5 linked regions of the Homo sapiens genome follow. The protein of the gene in region 3 purifies or fractionates together with the protein of the main gene of each other region. This does not show direct contact. Each region holds a gene or a part of one and is shown on either strand. Other genes may lie near its edges.

Region 1 (4,587 bases), on a different chromosome or scaffold from region 3:
CTCTTGGATTCAAGCAATTCTCCTGCCTCAGCCTCCCGAGCAGCTGGGACTACAGGTGCACGCCACCTGTAATTTTTAGCACGTCACCCAGCTAATTTTTTTTTTTTTTTTTGTATTTTAGTAGAAACGGTTTCACCGTGTTGCCCAGGCTGGTCTCTAAATCCTGAGCTCAGGCATTCTGCCTGCCTTGGCCTCCCAAAGTGCTAGGATTACAGGTGTGAGCCACTGTGCCCAGCTATTACTGATTTTTTTTTCCTTTTTCTTTTTCTTTTTGAGACAGAGTTTCACTCTTGTTGCCCAGGCTGGAGTGCAATGAGACAATCTCGGCTCACCGCAGCCTCCACCTCCCAGGTTCAAGTGATTCTCCTGCCTCAGCCTCCCGAGGAGCTAGGAAAAGGCATGTAGCACCATACCCAGCTAATTTTGTATTTTTAGCAGAAATGAGGTTTCTCCATATTGGTCAGGCTGGTCTCAAACTCCTGACCTCAGGTGATCCGCCCACCTTGGCCTCCCAAAGTGCTGGGATTACAGGCGTGAGCCACTGTGCCTGGCCAATACTGATTTTTAAAAGCACCACTGGGCCAGGCATGGTGGCTTATGCCTGTAACCCTAACACTTTGGGAGGCCAAGGTAGGAGGATCACTTGAGACCAGGAGTTTGAGACCAGACTAAGCAACAGTGAGACCCCATTTCTAAAAAAAAAAACAAAAAGGCCGGGCACGGTGGCTCACACCTGTAATCCCAGCACTTTGGGAGGCCGAGGCGGGTGGATCACGAGGTCAGGAGATCGAGACCATCCCGGCTAACATGGTGAAACCCCGTCTCCATTAAAAAATACAAAAAATTAGCCGGGCGTGGTGGCAGACGCCTGTAGTCCCAGCTACTTGGGAGGCTGAGGCAGGAGAATGGTGTGAACCCAGGAGGCGGAGCTGGCAGTGAGCTGAAATGGCACCACTGCACTCCAGCCTGGGTGACAGAGCAAGACTCTGTCTCAAAAAAAAAAAAAAAAAAAATTAGCCAGGTGTGGTGGCATGCACCTTTAGTCCCAGCACTTTGGGAGGCCAAGGTAGGAGGATTGCTTGAGGCCAGTAGTTTGAAACTAACCTGTGCAATAGTGAGTCTCTAAAAAATAATAATAATAAATAAAAATTTTAAAAATTAGCTGGGCGTGGTGGCTCACATCTATAGTCCCAACTACTCTAAAGGCTGAGGAGGGAGGATCACTTGAGCCCAGGAGTTTGAGGTTATAGTGAGCTATAATTGTGCCACTGCACTGCAGCCTGGGTGATAGAGCAAGAATCTGTCTCAGAAAAATAAAAGTACTACTGAAGTTTTAAAATCCAGCTGAAGGAAACTGGGTAAACCAACAATCATCTGAGAAGGGTGGCGCATTTCCCCAGGCATCTGAGAGTGAGTGTGGTTCTGGATCTGAGGCTGGTTTTGGACACAGCTCTGCCACTAACCAGCTGTGAGGCTCTTGGACCCAGGCTCCTCATTTGTACAGTGCAGTCATTCTTACCAAAGGAGTTTTGTTTATTGTTCATTTTTAGGATTAAGTGGGGGCATAGTATGCAAAGGGATTAACAGAAAAATTGGTTCTTTCATTTTGGCTCCCTCTGTCCATCCCCCCTGTCACCACCCCCACATCTCCTCTGCAACACTGGAAGCCCCTGCCTCTGGACCTGCAGGCTGTGGCCAGGAAGGGCAGTTGCCTAGACACCTGCACCTGCCGACGGCCCCTCCCCACCATCAGGCTCCTCTTGGTTGGACACCTGCCCTAGCCCAGTCACATACAGGTATGACTTGTATTCGTTTATTTACTTATTTATTTATTTGAGACAGTTTCACTCTTATCACCCAGGCTGGAGTGCAGTGATGCAATCTCAGCTCACTGCCACCTCCGCCTCCCGGGTTCAAGCAATTCTCCTGCCTCAGCCTCCCAGGTAGCTGGCATTATAAGCGCCCAGCACCACGCCCAGCTATTTTTTTTGTATTTTTAGTAGAGATGGGGTTTCACCATATTGGCCAGGCTGGGCTCGAACTCCTGACCTCAGGTGATCCGCCCTCCTCGGCCTCCCAAAGTGCTGGGATTACAGGCATGAGCCACTGCATCTGGCCAGCCACTGCACCCGGCCTAGTTTTTTTAATAGACAGGCTCTCACTCTGTTGCCCAGGCTGGAGTAGAGTGGTACAATCATGGATCACTGCAGCCTTGACCTTCTGGGTTTAAGCAATCCTCCTGCCTCAGCCTCAGGAGTAGCTGGGACCACAGGTGCCTGTGCCACACCCAGCTTTATTTTCCTTTTCTTTTTTTTTTTTTTTTAGTAGAGACAGGGTTTCGCTATGTTGCCCAGGCTGGTCTTAAACTCCTGAGCTTAAGCGATCCTCCTGCCTCAACCTCCCAAAGTGCTGGGATTATAGGCATGAGCCACCATGCTCGGCCCTTTTCTTATTATTGTATTAAATGGATTCTTCTTTACTAAAAAATTACTTTAAAAGGAAACCTTGGCCAGGTGTGGTGGCTCACACCTGTAATCCCAGCACTTTGGGAGGCAGAGGAGGGCTGATCACCTGAGGTCGGGAGTTCGAGACCAGCCTGGCCAACATGGCGAAATCCCGTTTCTACTAAAAACACAAAAATTAGCCGGGCATGGTGGTGGATGCCTGTAATCTCAGCTACTCAGGAGGCTGAGGCAGGAGAATCGCTTGAACCTGGGCAGCAGAGGTTGCTGTGAGCCAAGATCTTGCCACTGTACTCCAGCCCAGGCAATACAGCAAGACTCCATCTCAATTAAAAAAAAAAAAGGGAGGCTGAGGCAGGTGGATCATGAGGTCAGGAGAGCAAGACCATCCTGGCTAACATGGTGAAACCCCGTCTCTACTAAAAATACAAAAAATTAGCTGGGCATGGTGGCGGGCACCTGTAGTCCCAGCTACTTAGGAGGCTGAGGCAGGAGAATGGCGTGAACCCAGGAGGCGGAGCTTGCAGTGAGCCGAGATCAGGCCACTGCACTCCAACCTGATCAACAGAGCAAGACTCTGTCTCAAAAAAAGAAAAAAAGCCAGGCACAGTAGCTCACGCCTGTAATCCCAGCACTTTGGGAGGCCGAGGCAGGCAGATCACGAGGTCAGGAGTTCGAGACTAGCCTGGCCAATATGGTGAAACCCCGTCTCTACTAAAAATACTAAAATTAGCCAGGCGTGTTGGCACATGCCGGTAGCCCCAGCTACTCAGGAGGATGAGGCAGAAGAATTGCTTGAGGCCGGGCGCGGTGGCTCACACCTGTAATCCCAGCACTTTGGGAGGCCGAGACGGGCGGATCACGAGGTCAGGAGATCGAGACCATCCTGGCTAACATGGTGAAACCCCATCTCTACTAAAAATACAAAAAAAAGTTAGCCGGGCGTGGTGGCAGGCGCCTGTAGTCCCAGGTACATGGGAGGCTGAGGCAGGAGAATGGCATGAACCCGGGAGGCGGAGCTTGCAGTGAGCCAAGATCGCACCACTGCACTCCAGCCTGGGCGACAGAGCAAGACTCTGTCTCAAAAAAAAAAACAAACAAACAAAAAAGGAAACCTTACACACTAGTGTAAATAAGAATATCACAGCATTTGTCATCCATCCAGATGACTCAAAGCAGTGTCAGTAAGTCCTGGGGGGAAGCTGCTACCTGCAAAGACTCTAGGCGTCTGCCTGTTCTCTTGGGAGACAGGCAAACATCAAAGAGTACAATGAAAAGATGGTGTTGGCCAAGGCCCGAGCAGGAGAAAATAGGGAGTTGCTATTTAATGGGTACAGAGTGTCCATTTGGGAAGATGAAAGAGTTCTGAAGGTGGATGGTGGAGGTGGCTGCACAACAATTGTGAACGTACTTCATGCCACAGAACTCTACACCTAAAAATGGTTAAGGAGGTCGATTATATGTTATATATATTTTACCACAATTTAAAATAAAAAAATATGTAAACCACATACAGACACCAGAAGAAAACTTTTATTTTGAGGAAAATTAAAGGACTGACAGTGAGTTTTGAAAGAGTGAATTTTTCTCATTCCCACTGTCGCATGAGGCCCCACTGGCACACAGAATGTGCTGGCGTCTGGCAGGCACTGCTTTTGAGGGGGTGCTCCCCACTCTTCACAACACAGGAACAGGAGGCAGGCAGGCCATAGGGGAACTCAGGGACCTGGGTCAGGCCAGAAAGCAACAGTGAAAAGAAAAGAGAAGTGAGAGTTGCACAAAGAACAAGGATGGGTGAGGGTGGTGGATGACACACGCCACCTCCCATCCACCCGCGGGGTCCAGCCCCTAACGGTGCCCAAAGGCAGTGTCTACAGAGCGGAAGCCACCTCGTGGGGCTGACAGAGCTCAGGCAGAGTGGGGGACCCACAAAGGAAGCAGGAAGAAAATCACCCAAGGCCCAAGTCAACCCAGGTCCACAGACACTTCCTGGCACTTCCCTGCTGCGGGCCTGGTGAAGGGAGTTGAGCAAGGCCCGGTCCAGCCCTGCAGGGGCCACAGCTACAGACAGCCCTCAGGGGCCAGGGAGAACGAGGCCCAAAAACCAGGCCCAGTCTAACCCTGC
Region 2 (4,587 bases), on a different chromosome or scaffold from region 3:
TGGGATTACAGGCGTGAGCCACTGTGCCTGGCTCTGGAAGTTACTTTGGAGACCGTTCTGTAAATCTCTAGGTGCATTAAGATTTACAACCTGGCTGGATCCCAGGACTGAGCCACAGAGCCTTTCTTAATTAAGGTCATACACACCTAGCTTCATTCACTAAGGGTCTATCAATCTGAGAGGCTGGGTTCTTTTAGAGAACTCCTCGTTCTCCTCCCCACAGAGTATCTCATGGAACACCCTTCTCTTCAGAATCTACCCCACCATGACCTGAAATTCCTATTCAGCCTCCAGCCCACCACACAGTCGTCTAGGTTGAAATAACAGGTATTCTTGGATACATGTTGCTTATTTAGGGAATTACTGAGTTATAGAAAATTGGGTTGAGAGCAAAAATGTTTCTTTTTGTGACATGCTGACAAACAGAACTGAAACCAGGCTTTAAATTGATACTTAAAACCTGTACACAGCTTTTGCATTAATTTTCATATGATCCCTCCAGCCCTAGGAGAACCAAATATCCCCACTAGAGAAACAAGAAAACTTGGACAGAGAAAGGCAAAAATCAATCCTAACACTGGTAAAATCAAGATTCGAATTCGGGATTCCTAATTCCAAAGCCCAGTGCTCTTTCCGTAAGACAGTGCTGCTAATGTCCCCCTCACCTTGGCCGAACACTCAGCTCCGGGATGGTTCGAACGAATCTGGGGTGACTTATTGGGAGATACCTGGAGAAACAAATAAGCTGAATCATTTCTCTTCATCTCTGTAACACAGTAATCTGTAGGTCAGGATTTCTCCCTACTCTCCACCAAACCAAGCTCACAAAAGCACCCTGTTCCACTGTCACACCACCACTGAAGACAGATGTGTCAGGCTGAAGGTTTCCATTCCCAACCTTTGCAGTTATTAGTAAGGAGCAGGCTCATCTGAATTTTTTTTTTTTCTGGGACAAGGTCTCACTCTGTCACCCAAGCTGGAATGCAGTGGCGCAATCATGGCTCACTGTAGCCTCAATCTCCTGGGCTCAAGCAATCCTCCCAGCTCAGCCTCCCAAGTAGCTGGGACTATAGGTGTATGCCACCATGCCCAGCTAATTTTTATTTTTATTTATTTATTTTTTTTTTTGTAGAGATGGGGTCTCACCATGTTGCCCAGGCAGGTCTTGAACTCCTGGGCTCAGGTTTTCCACCTCCCTCATCGTCCCAAAGTGCTGGGATTACAGGGTTCAGCCACTACACCCAGCCTCACCTGATTTTTTTTTTTTTTTTGAAACGGAGTCTCACTCTCTTGCCCAGGCTAGAGTGCAATGGCACAATCTCAGCTCACTGCAACCTCTGCCTCCTGAGTTCAAGTGATTCTCCTGCCTCAGCTTCCCGAGTAGCTGGGACTACAGGCACTGTGCCCGGCTAATTTTTGTTTTTTCAGTAGACGGGGTTTCACCATGTTGGCCAGGCTAGTCTTGAACTCCTGATCTCAGGTGATCCACCCACCTCAGCCTCCCAAAAGTGCTGGAATTACAGGCGTGAGCCACCGTGCCTGGCCTGATCTTTTAGGATTGTCATATCAGATCCTGAAAACAATTTTCCTTACAGTCTATATACTCCAATTCTTTCATTCTAAAAATAAGGAAACTGAGGTCTTTATTTAGAGGATAATTGACTTACTGAAGACCCCACAGTTAGCTACTGAAATTAATATGCAAATTATTGGCCAGACTTTGAATTCTTTTTTTGCTGTTCTTGTTATAGCAAGAATTTCTGCTACAGTAACATGTGGCACTAGATTTAAAGTAAATGAGGATAATTAAAGTGGGAGGTGGAGAATGACAACTGCAGATGTATACAGCGCAGTAACTGAGGCCAGCAACCCACTAGGCAAAGAACAGACTACACGTTCTCTCTTTCAGTCTTCACCATGGCCCTACAAAGTAGTCGCTACCATGACTCTCACGTTACAAATTAAGAAAATAAAATTTGGACTTAAGTAGCTACTGCCACATGGTCACAGTTAATCTAGAATTCAAACCCGGGTCTGACTCCAAACCCATGTTCTTAACAACCACACCATATATTCCATATTTTTAAAAAGAATAATGCACTGTAATCCCAGCACTTTGGGAGGTGGAGGTGAGCAAATCACAAGGTCAGGAGATTGAGACCATCCTGGCTAACACAGTGAAACCCCATCTCTATTAAAAACACAAAAAGTTAGCCGGGCGTGGTGGTGGGTGCCTGTAGTCCCAGCTACTTGGGAGGCTGAGGCAGGAGAAGGGTGTGAACCCAGGAGGCAGAGCTTGCAGTGAGGCGAGATCACACCACTGCACTTCAGCCTGGGCAACAGAGTGAGACTCCGTCTCAAAAAAAAGAAAAAAAAAAGAATCTTGCAAAATAATTCTTTGGTGAATGCCTTTTGTTAACTAAAAGAGAATCTGACTTACATGCAACTTTTTGGAGCCCACCTACTTTCCCAGTCCTCCCACAACAACAACAATCTCCCTCGAAGCCAGCCCACCCCCAGAGCCTCCATACTTGAATGTCTTCATGTCTCGCCCGCCAATCACTCGGGCAGTGACCGTCTTCCCAACCTTCAGCTTGGTAGTAGGAGAGGTGCCCTCTGGAACATCATCTAGAATGTGGGAGGCATGGATACAGCCAATAATGCCATCTTCCAGAGTCACAACCACATGGGTAGGCTTAATGGACTTGACAGTCCCTGTGACCATGTCCCCGATGGAGAGGGTGTGCTTCTTTATGGTCCCTACAGTCAGAGCTGGATCCACTTCTTCATCCTCATCAACTGTCTCAGAGTCCTTCTGGGTCGGCCTCATGGTCCTCTTGGCAGCCGGCCCCTCCACAGCCAAAAGAAGGCCAGTCACTCCTGGTTCTGTGGTCTTGAGGGTTAGGGAGACACCCTGTCCCACCTGCAATTTCTCTGAGTCAAAGCGGAAGGTGTCGTTGAGGTGAGAGGTCAGGGAGAAAGCTGCCAGGTGGCCCGTCTCTACCAAGGAGGCAATGGCAAAGGACTTCTCCAAGTGCTGCACAATCGCCTGGTGTTCGCTGCCTTTCCTCAGCTAGAAGAGAGAAAAGCCACCATCCCTGCTTTCCTTACACAGCATGGTCACTCACTCATGGCCCCACTGGGCAGGGTGTGGCTGAGGAAACCCTCTGGGGTCCCAAGGCTAGGGAACTCAAGGCTGGTCTGAGCTGGAACAGACTAGCCTTCACTCCCTGGACCTAGCTTTCCTCTCCTGTACACTAAACTCATGGGGCTGCCTCTGAATTACCTTGGCTTGGTTTTTGCTTTGCTTTGAATTTAAATTGCAAGACCCTATCCTAGATCTAGTAAATCTGAATTTTACAAGTTATTGAGATAATTCTGATGCACAGCCTTGCAACCTCTAACAGCTCTCTCAGCTTAGAGACACTGTGGTTCCTGAATCTGTCCTGCAGCTCCCCCACCCCCAATTAATCACTCTTCAACCCAAGCAATGAATAGAGTCATTACTGAGAGCTTATTGTGTGCAAGGCACCTAGCCTCTCTTTCCTCAAAATCCAAATTGTGCTCATGCTCTTATATGCCCAAGCTTCCCTTAGGTGATAAAATGGTACAGGGTCCTGCTAGAAAACTGAATGAGAGGTTAGTATTGCTTTCCATTCTCTCTCTGTCCTAAACTCTTAATACTGTAAGCAACTGGAAATTAAGGATTATATCTACACTGCACCATACTCTGTGCAACTAGGTGCCTAATAAGTGCTTTAGACAATAACCAAATATATTCATCACCCAGAGAAAAATAATAATTTTTCCCTCAAACCCATTCTTATGTCACACAAAAGTGTCCAGAAGACAAGGCAGGCGAGGGTGTGGACGCACAGCTTGGAGGTCTGAACTGCCCACAGACATGCTGTTTGGCTCATGGGATGTTTTTAAAAAAATAAGTTTCCAACATTTTCAGCTTTTATTTCAAATAAAAATCCAAATTCTGCCTTCTCTTAAAAATCAAAGATTTAGCAGCAGTAGCCCCAGATTCCCACCCGGCAACAATTGGGCGGGACTGAACAGTCTCAGCCCCACAGGGGCTGGGCATGCACTCTCCAGCTCGTCAGAGTCCCAGGCCAGCCACTCCCTACCCACACAGCCAGCTCCACTCCTGCACACTATTTATCTGTCTGGCCCTAAAGATGGAGTGCCCATGTAACTTATCACCGGAACCAGAACAGAAGTCAGCACTATGAACCACACCAGGACAAGAGGTCTAAACCGGGGGTGTCCTGGATCCATCCAGACATAGGGCTACCCTTGCTACAGGCATCTGAGTTGGAATCCCTGAACTGGAGTGGGGTTGAAGGGTACATCATGTGAAACCATGGAAATGGAAGTCAGGAGCAAGCTTACCTTTCTAGCTTTTCTATTCACCAAGTCCTGGTGAAGGGAAACGTGCACTTCCAACTTCAAAAGATCAACATTTAAGATAACAACCTTCTTTTTCTGCCCAGATTCCACCTCCTGCCCTGCAGTGCAGAACCACAGTGTGATTATCCTTCTGGAACAGAGTGAAGGGAGAGCAGCACCTCTCACATGTAG
Region 3 (4,587 bases):
ACCAATGAGAACAAAAACACAACATACCAGAATCTCTGGGACACATTTAAAGCAGTGTGTAGAGGGAAATTTATAGCACCAACTGCCCACAAGAGGAATCAGGAAAGAACTAAAATCTATACCCTAATATCACAATTAAAAGTACTAGAGAAGCAAGAGCAAACAAATTCAAAAGCTAGCAGAAGACAAGAAATAACTAAGATCAGAACAGAACTGAAGGTGATAGAGACATGAAAAACCTTTCAAAAAATCAATGAATCCAGGATCTGATTTTTTGAAAAGATCAACAAAATAGAATGCTAGCCAGACTAATAAAGAAGAAAAGAGAGCAGAATCAAATAGACACAATAAAAAATGATAAAGCGGAGATCACCACTGATCCCACAGAAATACAAAATACCATCAGAGATTACTATAAATACCTCTAAGCAAATAAACTAGAAAATCTAGAAGAAATGGGTAAATTCCTGCAAACATACACCCTCCCAAGTCTAAACCAGGAAGAAGATGAATCCCTAAATAGACCAATAACAAGTTCTGAAATTGAGGCAGTAATTAATAGCCTACCAACCAAAAAAAGTCCAGGACCAGATAGATTCACAGCCGAATTCTACCAGAGGTACAAAGAGGTACAAAGCTAGTACTATTCTTTCTGAAACTATTCCAAACAATAGGAAAAGAGGGACTCCTCCCTAACTCATTTTATGAGGCCAGCATCATCCTGAAACCAAAACCTGGCAGAGACACAACAAAAAAAAAAAAAGAGAGAAAATTTCAGGCCAGTATCCCTGACGAACATCCATGCAAAAATCCTCAATAAAATACTGGCAAACTGAGTGCAGCAGCACATCAAAAAGCTTATCCACCACGATCAAGTTGGCTTCATCCCTGAGACACAAGGCTGGTTCAACATACGCAAATCAATAAACACAATCCATCACATAAACAGAACCAATGACAAAAACCACATGATGATCTCAATAGATGCAGAAAATTTGATAAAATTCAACACCCCTTCATACTAAAAACTCTCAATAAACTAGGTATTGATGGAACGTAGCTCAAAAAAAATGACAGATTTAAGACAAAACCACAGCCAATATCATACTGAATGGGTAAACCTGGAAGCATTCCCTTTGAAAGCTGGCACAAGACAAGGATGCCCCCTCTCACCACTCCTGTTCAAAATAGTATTGAAAGTTCTGGCCAGGGCAATCAGGCAAGAGAAAGAAATAAAGGGTATTCAAATAGGAAAACAGGAAGTAAAATTGTCTCTGTTTGCAGATGATATGAATTGTATATATAGGGAACCCCACCATCTCAGCCCAAAATCTCCTTAAGCTGATAAGCAACTTCAGCAAAGTCTCAGGATACAAAATCAATGTGCAAAAATCACACACATTCCTATACACCAATAACAAACAGAGAGCCAAATCATGAGTGAACTCCCATTCACAATTGCTACAAAGAGAATGAAATATCTAGGATTACAACTTACAAGGGATGCAAAGGACCTCTTCAAGGAGAACTACAAACCACTGCTCAAGGAAATAAGAGAGGACACAAATAAATGGAAAAACATTCCATGCTCATGGATAGGAAGAATCAATATCGTGAAAATGGCCATATTGCCCAAGGCAATTTATATATTCAGTGCTATCCCCATCAAACTACCATTGACTTTCTTCACAGAATTGGAAAAAACTACTTTAAACTTCATATGGAATCAAAAAAGAGCCCGCATAGCCAAGACAATTCTAAGCAAAAAGAACAAAGTTATAGGCATCATGCTACCTGACTTCAAACTATACTACAAGGCTACAGTAAACAAAACAGCATGGTAGTGGTACCAAAACAGATATCTAGACCAACAGAACAGAACAGAGGCCTCAGAAATAACACCACACATCTACAACCATCTGATCTTTGACAAACCTTACAAAAACAACCAATGGGGAAAGGATTCCCTATTTAATAAATGGTGTTGGGAAAACTAGCTAGCCATATGCAGAAAACTGAAACTGGACCCCTTCCTTACACCTATACAAAAATTAACTCAAGATGGATTAAAGACTTAAATGTAAGACCTAAAACCATAAAAACCCTAGAAGAAAACCTAGGCAACACCATTCAGGACATAGGCATTGGAAAAGACATCATGACTAAAACACAAAAACCAATGGCAACAAAAGCCCAAATTGAGAAATGGGATCTAATTAAACTAAAGAGCTTCTAGACAGCAAAAGAAACTATCATCAGAGTGAACAGGCAACCTACAGAATGGGAGAAAATTTTTGCAAGCTATCCATCTGACAAAGGGCTAATACCAAGAATCTACAAGGAACATAAACAAATTTAAAAGAAAAAAACAAACAACCCCATCAAAAAGTGGGCGAAGGATTTGAACAGACACATTTCAAAAGAAGATATTTATGCAGCCAACAGACATATGAAAAAAAGCTCATCATCTGATCATTAGAGAAATCCAAATCAAAACCACAATGAGATACCATCTCACACCAGTTAGAATGGTGATCATTAAAAAGTCAGGAAACAACAGGATGCTGTTTTGGATGCCAAAGAGGATGTGGAGAAATAGGAACACATTTACACTTTTACTCTGTTGGTGGGAGTATAAATTAGTTCAACCATTGTGGAGGACAGTGTAGCAATTCCTCAAGGATCTAGAACTAGAAATACCATTTGACTCAGCGATCCCATTACTGGGTATGTACCTAAAGGCTTATAAATCATTCTGCTATAAAGACACATGCATGTTTATTGTGGCACTATTCACAATAGCAAAGACTTGGAACCAACCCAAATGCCCATCAACGATAGACTGGATAAAGAAAATGTGGCACATAGACACTATGGAATACTATGCAGCCATAAAAAAGGATGAGTTCATGTCCTTCACAGGGACATGGATAAAGCTGGAAACCATCATTCTTAACAAACTAACACAAGAACAAAAAACCAAACACAGCATGTTCTCACTCATAAGTGGGAGCTGAACAATGAGAACATATGGACACAAGGAGGGGAACATCACATACTGGGGCCTGTCAGGGGATGGAGGGCTAGGGGAGGAACAGCACTAGGAGAAATGCCTAATGTAGACGACGGGTTGATGGGTGCAGCAAACCACCATGGCACTTGTACACCTATGTAACAAAACTGCACATTCTGCACATGCACCCCAGAACTTAAACTATAATAAAAAGTAAAAAATAAAAAATAAATAAAACTCTGATCTGTAGGCCAAAGGGTACTTCTTTTTCTTTATTAATTACTCAGAAGTCTAGGCCACAGCAATCCTACTGTTCTCCTCTCATTTTCCTAAACTATTTTGATACCTATTTCTCAGACTTTATGGGCTATTAGACATTTCTCACATTTCCATAGATAATAACTCATCCGTTTTGCAACCTGATTCTCAATATTAAGAGATTAAAACTAATGTATATGACTCTCAGTTGACACATACTGAAGTACAGAAAAATTCCATCATTTCCTTCTGCAAAATGAAAAAGACTTCGTTTTCTCAACAGCTGCATCATTTTTTTATGCATAGAAAAAAATGTGCAATTACTCCAAGTACAATCAAGTCATTTAACATGGCTTTACCATCATTGTAGTTACAGGATATTTTAAAAGAGAAAAAAAAATCTCAAAGCACAGGTCCTGCTGTGCAGCAAAGCAATCAAATTCCTTCATAATAACAGCCTGATGGGATTCAGCAATCTGAGGAATAATGAATAACCACTCTAATCAGTAAACAGGAAAATGCTACAACAGTCACTGAGTAAAAATTGGACTATCATCTGTTGATTCTCTTGATCGACATTTCAAACAATAAATGGAAATGTAAGTATCTCTTAAAAAGAAAAATAACTTGGTTTAGTGTGCTTAATTTTACCAGGCAGTGAGGAAATTATATATCACCTTGACTGTCCTGCAGTGTTGCCCAGTCAATAAAATGCACAAATAATCTTTTTCATAATACATGGCCAACTTTATCCTATCACTTGAATATGTCAGGATAAACTGATTGTGCAGTTGGTTGATAACATTGTATTTTGGAATGGATTATTTGAATTTGTTTTGCTACTTTATTATTTGATATTCTTCTCCAGTGTTCATCTTATGAAGTTATTTGCATCTGAATATGAAGAGTCTGTTTCAAAATAGTCTTCAAGTTTCCAACGCAGTGTCTCAAATGTAGGTCGTTCCTTAGGCTCTGCATTCCAGCACTCCAACATGATGTTGTAAAATTGCTGTGGACAGTTGGATGGTTGCGGAAGTCTATAGTTTTGAGCCAACATCTGGATTACCTGGGCACCTGTCATACCTTGAAAATACAGAACGAAACCAACAACAACAAAAAAAACAAGTTAAAGGTCAGAGTCTTAAACTTATAGCCATTTATACTCTAGGTTACTAAGTAAGTCAATTTCTTTGGCAAAGATTTAAGGTCTGCCATCCCCTTCTCAGGTTACACAGATTAAACTAAATCCTGCAGCAAGTGATGTCTATAAGACTGCAATTCACTAGCAAAGGAGAGGGAAGCAATAAACCACCTCA
Region 4 (4,041 bases), on a different chromosome or scaffold from region 3:
CACCCAGGCTGGAGTGCAGTGGCACGATCTCAGCTCACTACAACTTTTGCCTCCCAGGTTCAGGTGATTCTCCTGCTTCATCCTCCTGAGTAGCTGGGGATTACAGGCGTGTGCCACCACTTCTAGCTAATTTTTGGTTTTTTGTTTTGTTTTGTTTTTTGAGACGGAGTTTCGCTCTTGTTGCCCAGGCTGGAGTGCAATGGCGCAATCTCGGCTCACTGCAACCTCCTCCTCCCAGGTTCAAGTGATTCTCCTCCCTCAGCCTCCCAAGTAGCTGGGATTATAGGTGCCCGTCACCATGCCCGGCTAATTTTTTTGTATTTTTAGTAGAGACGGGGTCTCAATGTTGGTCAGGCTGGTCTCTAACTCCTGACCTCAAGTGATCTGCCTGCCTCAGCCTCCCAAAGTGTTGGAATTACAGGCGTGAGCCAGTGTGCCTGTCCTTAATTTTTACATTTTTAGTAGAGATGAGGTTTCACCATGTTGGCCAGGCTGGTCTCAAACTCCCGATCTCAACTGATCTGCCTGCCTTGGCCTCCCAAAGTGCTGGGATTACAGGCGTGAACCACTGCACCTGGCTGAATCTCTGATTTTTATGTATTTATTATTTATTTATTTATTTATTTTTTGAGATGGAGTCTCGCTCTATTGTCTAGGCTGGAGTGCAGTGGTGTGATCTTGGCTTACAGCAACCGTTGCCTCCCAGGCTCATATCCTCCTACCTCAGCCTCCCAAGTAGCTGGGATTACAGGTGTGTTCGAACATGCCCAGCTAATTTTTGTATTTTTTGTAGAAACAGGGTTTTACCATGTTGCCTAGACTGGTCTCAAACTCCTGGGCTCAAGTGATTCACTCACCTCAGCCTCCGAAAGTGCTCGGATTATAGGCTTGTGCCACCTTGCCTGGCCTCTGGACTTATTTTTATTTTTATTTTTTTTGGAGACAGAGTGTCTCTGTCACCCAGGCTGGAGTGCAGTGGCGTGATCTCAGCTCACTGCAACCTCTGTCTCCTGGGTTCAAGCGATTCTTCTGCCTCAGCCTCCCGAGTAGCTGGTATTACAGGCGCCGGCCACCACGCCTGGCTAATTTTTGTATTTTTATTAGAGGCAGGGTTTCACCATGTTGGCCAGGCTGGTCTCAAACTCCTGACTTCAGGTGATCCGCCTGCCTCAGCCTCCCAAAGTTCTGGGATTACAGACATGAGCCACCATGCCCAGCCCTGGCCTCTGATTTTTAAGTGAGATCATTGCATTCTTTTCTCATCATCCTCCCCATTCCCATTGCTCCCCGTAAGAGTGACTTTGTCTTGCTCTGGCTTGTGGTTGGATAAGAACCAAAGCTCACGAAGCTGTGGGGCACCCTGTTTACCACAGGATCGAAGAGTCAGACCAAGGCCCTTATGCCATCATCCTGGCTCCCACCCGTGAGTTGGCTCAACAGATTGAGGAAGAGACCATCAAGTTTGGGAAACCGCTAGGTATCCGCACTGTGGCTGTCATTGGTGGCATCTCCAGAGAAGACCAGGGCTTCAGGCTGCGCATGGGTTGTGAGGTTTGTTTTTCTATCTAGCAGCCAGCCTGCTGTCTGGGAAGGCTATCTTGGGGCTTTGTTTCTAGTTTCTGGAATATATGTGCAGTAGTATGAAGAAAGGAGCTGGTTTATATATATGTGCTATTTATTGAGAACTTATGCACCAGGGTTTATATCACAAATAGTATATATCATATATATTAGCTCATTAATTCTCACAATAATGTATGAGAGTGGTATTTCCTTGTTATAGATCAAGCTGAGGTTCAGGTTAATAACTGCCTGAAGTCACAAACAGCTGGCAATGGGCAGAGCTGAGACTCATATCCATAGCCTGTGCTTTTAGTTACTCTTTACTCTGCCAGACCAAATCTTTGACTTTGTGCATTGCCTTCATCTCAGGAAAGTGGAGGAGAGCTCTTTATGAGAAGTCTGCTGTAGAAATTTAGTCTTTTTACAATTTTTTAAAAAAATTTAGTCTTTATACAACCCCCTTCATAGTACCCCTTAGTCTCTCCCATCTAAGAAGTTCCTTCTTCAGGATCTGAAATGATTTGCCAAAAAAAAAAAAGTTTCTACTGATTTTGCCTCCTCTGTCTAATCCTTGCACCTTACTCAGAGACCTCATTCATTCCTGAGAAAATCCAGGCAACAAGTGATTTCATGCCAGTTTGCAGGAGCCTTTACTGCTAAACATAACCAGAGGTTGGGGTCCAAGTTCCTCAGCATTGGAGGTCTGTCACCCAAGTGGGTGGATAGTTCACAGGAAAGAAAAGAAGGGGCACCTGCTGGGCTATAAATGATTATACTGTACTCCTCAGATTGTGATTGCTACCCCTGGGCGTTTGATTGATGTGCTGGAGAACCGCTACCTGGTGCTGAGCCGCTGTACCTATGTGGTTCTGGATGAGGCAGATAGGATGATTGACATGGGCTTTGAGCCAGATGTCCAGAAGATCCTGGAGCACATGCCTGTCAGCAACCAGAAGCCAGACACGGATGAGGCTGAGGACCCTGAGAAGATGCTGGCCAACTTTGAGTCGGGAAAACATAAGTACCGCCAAGTAAGGCTGCTTCCCTGGGCTGGGAAAAGTTGGACAGGCCAAGGCGGGTGGATCACTTGAGCTCAGGAGTTTGAGACCAGCCTGGGCAACATGGCGAAACTCCGTCTCTACAAAAATTTAAAAAATTAGCTGGGCATTGGTGGTGCACACCTGTGGTGCCAGCCACTCAGGAGGCTGAGGTGGGAGGACCTCTTAAGCCTGGGAGGCAGTGGTCGCAGTGAGCTGAGGTCGTGCCACTACTCCATTCCATCCTGGGCAACAGAGTGAGGCCCTGTCTCAAAAAAAAAGAAAAGTTGTACAAGGTTGCCAACCTCCTTTTGGGCCTTTCTTGCCTTAGGTGGGCTCAGAGTACATGTTTCTAGAATGAAGTGTGCCTAGGTACAGTCCTCTGACAGTCCTAAGGGTGGAGCCATTTAGCTTAGCCCTGGAAAAACGATTCCAAAGACTCATGCTGCTACCGGGACCACAGGTGCTAGCAAATGCTCTCAATCCTTCCTGTCATCATAAGATGGAAAGTGCCTTGATGAGCAGGTACTCAGGAAGGATGGGAATTCAGAGGACACTATTTTCTAAGGTGGTGGCTATCAAAGCCTATACTGTGGCCCATTTTAGATTCTTTAGTCTGGGCTGACCTGCCTTCGGTGACAGTGGGATATATGATTATTCCTGCCTGGGTGCAGGGCTGAGCCTCCTGTTTTCGTAGACAGTCATGTTCACGGCCACCATGCCCCCAGCGGTGGAGCGTCTGGCCAGGAGCTATCTTCGGCGACCTGCTGTGGTGTACATTGGCTCCGCAGGCAAGCCCCATGAGCGTGTGGAACAGAAGGTCTTCCTCATGTCAGAGTCAGAAAAGAGGTATGAGGGCAGCTGAGCCAGGGGAAACAGGGTGGAGAATAAAATGGCTCTGAGAACTTTTTTAGTGCAGGTGCAGGGCAGGGCAATTGCTCTGCTGTGTTGAAGAGCTGCTGTTTTCTTGGGCAGAATGTCATGGGCATTAAAGACCCTGAAAGTAGTGTTCATAGATGAGGGTTGGGCATTTCACTTGGAGTGGGAGGTATTATGCATCTTGTTTTTCTCCTCTTCCTTCCAGGAAAAAGCTGCTGGCAATCTTGGAGCAAGGCTTTGACCCACCCATCATTATTTTTGTCAACCAGAAGAAGGGCTGCGACGTGTTGGCCAAATCCCTGGAGAAGATGGGGGTGTGTCTGGCAGGGGAGAACAAAGTCTAGCCTCTGTGGCACTGCTTTCTGAATCTAGCAGGGCCCCCTAGGCTCTTCCTTTCAAGTCTCACCCTTTCTTTAGCCTGTCCAGCAATCAACAAGTTAGGACCAGGGTGAAGGGTGGTTTGAGGGAATAAAGAGAATGGAATCAATTGCTGGGACCCCCTGTCTGCTGCAGTAATGCCAGCCAAAGCTGCCTTGGGTCTTCATCCTGGTGAGGTGGAGCC
Region 5 (4,587 bases), on a different chromosome or scaffold from region 3:
AAAGAAAGATACTTTTATGGAACATCCATGAGGATCAACAGCACAACAAATTTTACACACAAAATAATATGCAGCCCAATTATTAAAATTCTTGAGACACATATGTTGAAAATTATCTCACCTGTAATCCCAGCACTTCAGGAGGCCAAGGCGGGAGGATCGTTTGAGCCCAGGAATTCAAGACCAGCTTCGTCAACAACAACAACAAAAAAAATTAGCCAGCTGTGGTGGTGCATGCCTATAGTCCCAGCCACTCGGGAGGCTGAGGTGGGAGAATCATTTGAGCCCAGGAGGTGAAGGCTGTAGTGAGCCTTGATCACTCAGTTGCACTGCAGCCTAGGTGACAGAGTGAGACCCCATCTCAAAAAAAAAATTTAAAAAGAGGCCAGGCGAGGTGGCTCATGCCTGTAATCCCAACACTTTGGGAGGCCAAGGTGGGTAGATTACCTGAGGTCAAGAGTTCGAGACCAGCCTGGCCAACATGGTCTCTACTAAAAATACAAAAATTAGCTAGGTGTGATGGCAGGCGCCTGTAATCCCAGCTACTCGGGAGGTTGAGGCAGGAGAATCGCTTGAACCTGGGCCGTGAGTCGAGATTGCGCCATTGCACTCCAGCCTGGGTGACACAGCAAGACTCCATCTCAAAAAAATAAAAATTAGAAAATAGAAAAAGAAAAAAAGAAAATTAATACGCTGTTGTGTATCACAGCTAATATTTTTGTTATATGTCGTTTTCTAAGTGCTTTTACCTATGACAATCGTTTTACAGTCCTGCAAAGAACATACATTGTCATTTTCATTTTCCAGATAAGGTAGATGAAACTTAGAGGAGTTAAGAAAATTTCTAAGGTCATACAAATTATGGCAGCTGCTACTCAAGTCCAGGTCCTTTGATTCCAGTTTTATAACTTTGCCTTATATATGCTGTGTTGCGTGTAATTATGTGTTCTAGGCCTGTCACTGGTTCTCTGACTACATGCTTATTTTTGTATTGGTTTAGGTTGGTAGAGGTCATAGTGTATGAGAGCATACTTTAAAAAAATCTCATTTTTCACTTCATATCCATTAGGATGGCTATTACTTTAAAAAAAAACCCATAAAATAATAAGTGTTAGGATGTGGAGAAATTGTAACCCTTGTACATTTTATATTTCCTTCATCCAGCAGCTCCACTTTCAGGTATATACCAAAAAAAATTGAAAGCAGAGACTCAAACAAATGTTTGTACAGTCATGTTCATAGCAGCGTTATTCACAATAACCAAAAAAAGGTGCAAGCAACCCAATGTTCATTGATAGATGAATCAATAAACAAAATGTGGTATATACATACAATTGAATATTACTCAGCCTTTAAAAAGAATGAGATTCTGGCACATGCTACAGCATGGAGGAAGCCTGCGCCACTGATAACATTATGCTAAGTGAAGTAAGCCAAACACATAAGGACAGATATTGTATGATTCCACTTAGATGAGATGCCTAAAAGAGTCCAGTTCACAGGAGGTAGAATAGTGGTTGGCAGGGGATGAGGGTAGAGAAGAAAGGGAATTATTGTTTGATGGATACAGAGTTTCAGTTTGGGTTGATGAAAAAGTTCTAGAGATGGATGGTTATGATGGTTGCCCAACAGTGTGAATGTACTTAATAGCACTGAACTATACACTAAAAATGGTTAAAATGGTAAATTTTATGTTGTGTATATTTTACCATAATAAAGAAGAATCTCACTGTTATCCTTCAAAGGAACTCGCTTTGAACGCTTGCTTATGAGAATAGGACATCAATCAAAGAATGCCCCAGTGGAGCTAAAAATTAGATGTTTGGATGCAATTTCATCTCTTCTGTACTTACCAGTAAGTAGGTAGGGAAATAATGAAGGACAGTGGGATATGTTTGGGAGAATAAATCTGTATGAATCAACATGATAAATGTGATGAAGTAAATACAAGAAGATAACCCTCATTATATGACTAGTGACATTTTTAATTTAAAATGGAATCATAGAGTGTTAGAACTGAAGAGACTCTAGAGACTGCTTAATCAACCACATTCAAAGAAAACTGGGAAAGGTCTGGGCTGGATTTGAGAAAGAGTCCTCCAGACTTAGCCAGTTTCACACAACAAATTAATGACAGAGTGCCATCAGCACTCAGGTGTCTGACTTCTAAATAAGTGCTTTTCTCCAGATCAGTTAACTTTTGATGAGATTTTCCTTTTCTTTCCTGTAGCCTGAGCAGCAGACTGATGACCTTCTGAGGATGACAGAATCCTGGTTTTCTTCTTTATCTCGGGATCCACTGGAGCTCTTCCGTGGCATTAGTAGTCAGCCCTTCCCTGAACTACACTGTGCTGCCTTAAAAGTGTTTACGGTAGGTATTCACTTCCATAGGTCCTTCTGGGACCCTGCCAGCTCAACACTTGAGTACTTAACAGTGAGCCAGAGCCTGTGCCATCTCTGGGGATGCACAAGTGCATAGTATAGTTTCTACCTTCTGCTACCTTAGAGACTAAGTAAGGAGACAGATGTGTAAACAGATTGTTTCAGTAAAAGATATTAGGTGCTGTTTGAGGTTTGAACAGGATGCTATGGGATCACACAGTTAATTCCAGACTTTTTATCTGCCATCCTCTATTAACCTAGCCCTGGTCTTCCTAATCCTTATTTCCCGTGCAGAAAATAAGGCTTCTGGCACCTAATGCTCCAGTGGTACCAAACTGTTTGTTTTGTGTCTCTGGACCTTTGCTGGGGTCTCCGTATCTAACACTCTTCCTTAACTTTGCTTCTTAACCTCTTACTCACTCGTCAAGGACTAACTCCTTGTCTTCAGCACACTTTGCCCAGATTGACAAGGTTGAGTTAAACAATGTTGGTTCTCATATGTTGCATTTATTTATTCAGCAAATATTTGTTGAGTTTCCGTTTTTGCTCAGTGAAGGGCATACAACAGTGAAGAAAATATATAAAGACCTTCCTTTCATGTAGTTTCCTGTCTATTGAAGGAGCCAGGCAGTAAATATAATTGTACAGTTACTTATATAATTACAGCTGTGGTAAGGATTATACCTTTGTGTTCTATTTGTTATATTATTTTGCAAATGTTTATTTATCGACTTGTCTTACCTATTAAGTAGAGTTGGCTGAGAGCAGGAAGCATATCTGATTTATCTTTGTAGCCCCAGCATAGCAAGATAGTAATCGCTTTAGTAATCATATCAATAATGGGATCTCAGACAGCATACATGGCCTAGACTGGGAGGGAATAAGGAAAATGGCAGGGACAAAAGAGGGAAGGCTTCCTGAGGATGCGATACAGGATCTGGGTCTTGAAGGATACAGGTATTCCTATAATCTTCAGAAACATTTTTTTTTTTGAGACAGAGTCTCGCTCTGTCGCCCAGGCTGGAATGCAGTGGCGTGATCTTGGCTCACTGCAAGCACCACCTCCCGGGTTCACGCCATTCTCCTGCCTCAGCCTCCCGAGCAGCTAGCCTACGGGCGCCCACCACCATGCCCGACTAATTTCTTTTTGTATTTCTAGTAGAGACGGGGTTTCACTGTGTTAGCCAGGATGGTCTCGATCTCCTGACCTTGTGATCCGCCCGCCTCGGCCTCCCAGAGTGCTGGGATTACAGGCGTGAGCCACCGCGCCTAGCCAGAAACATTTCTTTAAGACTGCTTCACCCTTGTAAATGGTCATTGTATGAGATGGCCATTTTGGATCCTGCTTAGTATTTTCATTATTAGTTTATTTTGGTTTTGCTCTTCTACCTTATCCTGTGCTTAGCTGGTTCCATTGTAGAAATAATTTTCTATTTACTGGTTGGGATAACTATTTTTATTTCTGCCTACTTTCATGCTTGGTTGTGAAGCAGGCCAAAGTTTCTCAAACATTAATCTTAGGAATCTTATTAAAATGTAGATTCTAATTCAGTAGTTGTGGGGCAGAGCCTGGGATCCTGAAAGTCTAACAAGCTCGCAGGTGTTGCTGATGCTACTTGTCTGTGGAACACATTTTGAGAGGAAAAAACTAGGCCATAAACTTGTTACTTCTTTTTCATTAAAACGTAATAGGTTTTGAAAAACTTAATCTTAAAATTTGGAAAAGACTTAGAAGTAGAATTTTTTAAAATCACAGAAAGTTCTACCTTTTGGTGTATTTCCTTTTAGTTTTTGTATTAGTGTGTGTTTATTTTTGGTGAAATATTTCAAATATAGTTGTATCTTGCTACCTCTGCCCAGTCCTATTCCCCTTCCTCTGTTCTTAGATAAAATCACTATCACAAAGTCAGGGCCCATAAATGATTTCATATTTCTACTACATATTGTGTGTATCCTTAAATAAAACACAGTATTTTAGATATTCATAAACTTTGTAAGTGGTATCATGCTGTTTGTATCATTCCATTAGGTTGGTGCAAAAGTAATTGCAGTTTTTGCTTTTTTTTTTTTTCTCTTCAATGTTACGTTTTTTTAAAATTTGTCTATGTTAAAAGAGGCAGTTAGAAAGTTGGTATTTCATTGAATAGCCACAATATATCATTCTCCTATAAATGAAGATTTAGATAGTATCTTACAAATGATACC

What was found.
Region 1: the proteins of FRK (region 3) and NUP210 purify together in Homo sapiens (affinity purification with mass spectrometry; one large-scale study listed by BioGRID and IntAct). This does not show direct contact.
Region 2: the proteins of FRK (region 3) and PDCD11 purify together in Homo sapiens (affinity purification with mass spectrometry; one large-scale study listed by BioGRID and IntAct). This does not show direct contact.
Region 4: the proteins of FRK (region 3) and DDX23 purify together in Homo sapiens (affinity purification with mass spectrometry; one large-scale study listed by BioGRID and IntAct). This does not show direct contact.
Region 5: the proteins of FRK (region 3) and PSMD5 purify together in Homo sapiens (affinity purification with mass spectrometry, with the first as the bait; one large-scale study listed by BioGRID). This does not show direct contact.

The regions. Positions count from the first base shown.
Region 1 is NC_000003.12:13,409,925-13,414,511, forward strand, and holds part of NUP210 (nuclear pore membrane glycoprotein 210 precursor), read right to left. Parts: intron 1-4,587. UniProt on the Homo sapiens protein: Nucleoporin essential for nuclear pore assembly and fusion, nuclear pore spacing, as well as structural integrity.
Region 2 is NC_000010.11:103,423,470-103,428,056, reverse strand, and holds part of PDCD11 (protein RRP5 homolog), read right to left. Parts: intron 4,515-4,587; coding exon 4,399-4,514; intron 3,074-4,398; coding exon 2,532-3,073; intron 729-2,531; coding exon 666-728; intron 1-665. UniProt on the Homo sapiens protein: Essential for the generation of mature 18S rRNA, specifically necessary for cleavages at sites A0, 1 and 2 of the 47S precursor. Directly interacts with U3 snoRNA. Involved in the biogenesis of rRNA.
Region 3 is NC_000006.12:115,938,272-115,942,858, forward strand, and holds part of FRK (tyrosine-protein kinase FRK), read right to left. Parts: intron 4,355-4,587; coding exon 4,143-4,354; 3' UTR 1-4,142. UniProt on the Homo sapiens protein: Non-receptor tyrosine-protein kinase that negatively regulates cell proliferation.
Region 4 is NC_000012.12:48,831,830-48,835,870, reverse strand, and holds part of DDX23 (probable ATP-dependent RNA helicase DDX23), read left to right. Parts: intron 1-1,373; coding exon 1,374-1,551; intron 1,552-2,351; coding exon 2,352-2,594; intron 2,595-3,297; coding exon 3,298-3,449; intron 3,450-3,684; coding exon 3,685-3,793; intron 3,794-4,041. UniProt on the Homo sapiens protein: Involved in pre-mRNA splicing and its phosphorylated form (by SRPK2) is required for spliceosomal B complex formation.
Region 5 is NC_000009.12:120,818,623-120,823,209, reverse strand, and holds part of PSMD5 (26S proteasome non-ATPase regulatory subunit 5), read left to right. Parts: intron 1-1,745; coding exon 1,746-1,855; intron 1,856-2,230; coding exon 2,231-2,371; intron 2,372-4,587. UniProt on the Homo sapiens protein: Acts as a chaperone during the assembly of the 26S proteasome, specifically of the base subcomplex of the PA700/19S regulatory complex (RC).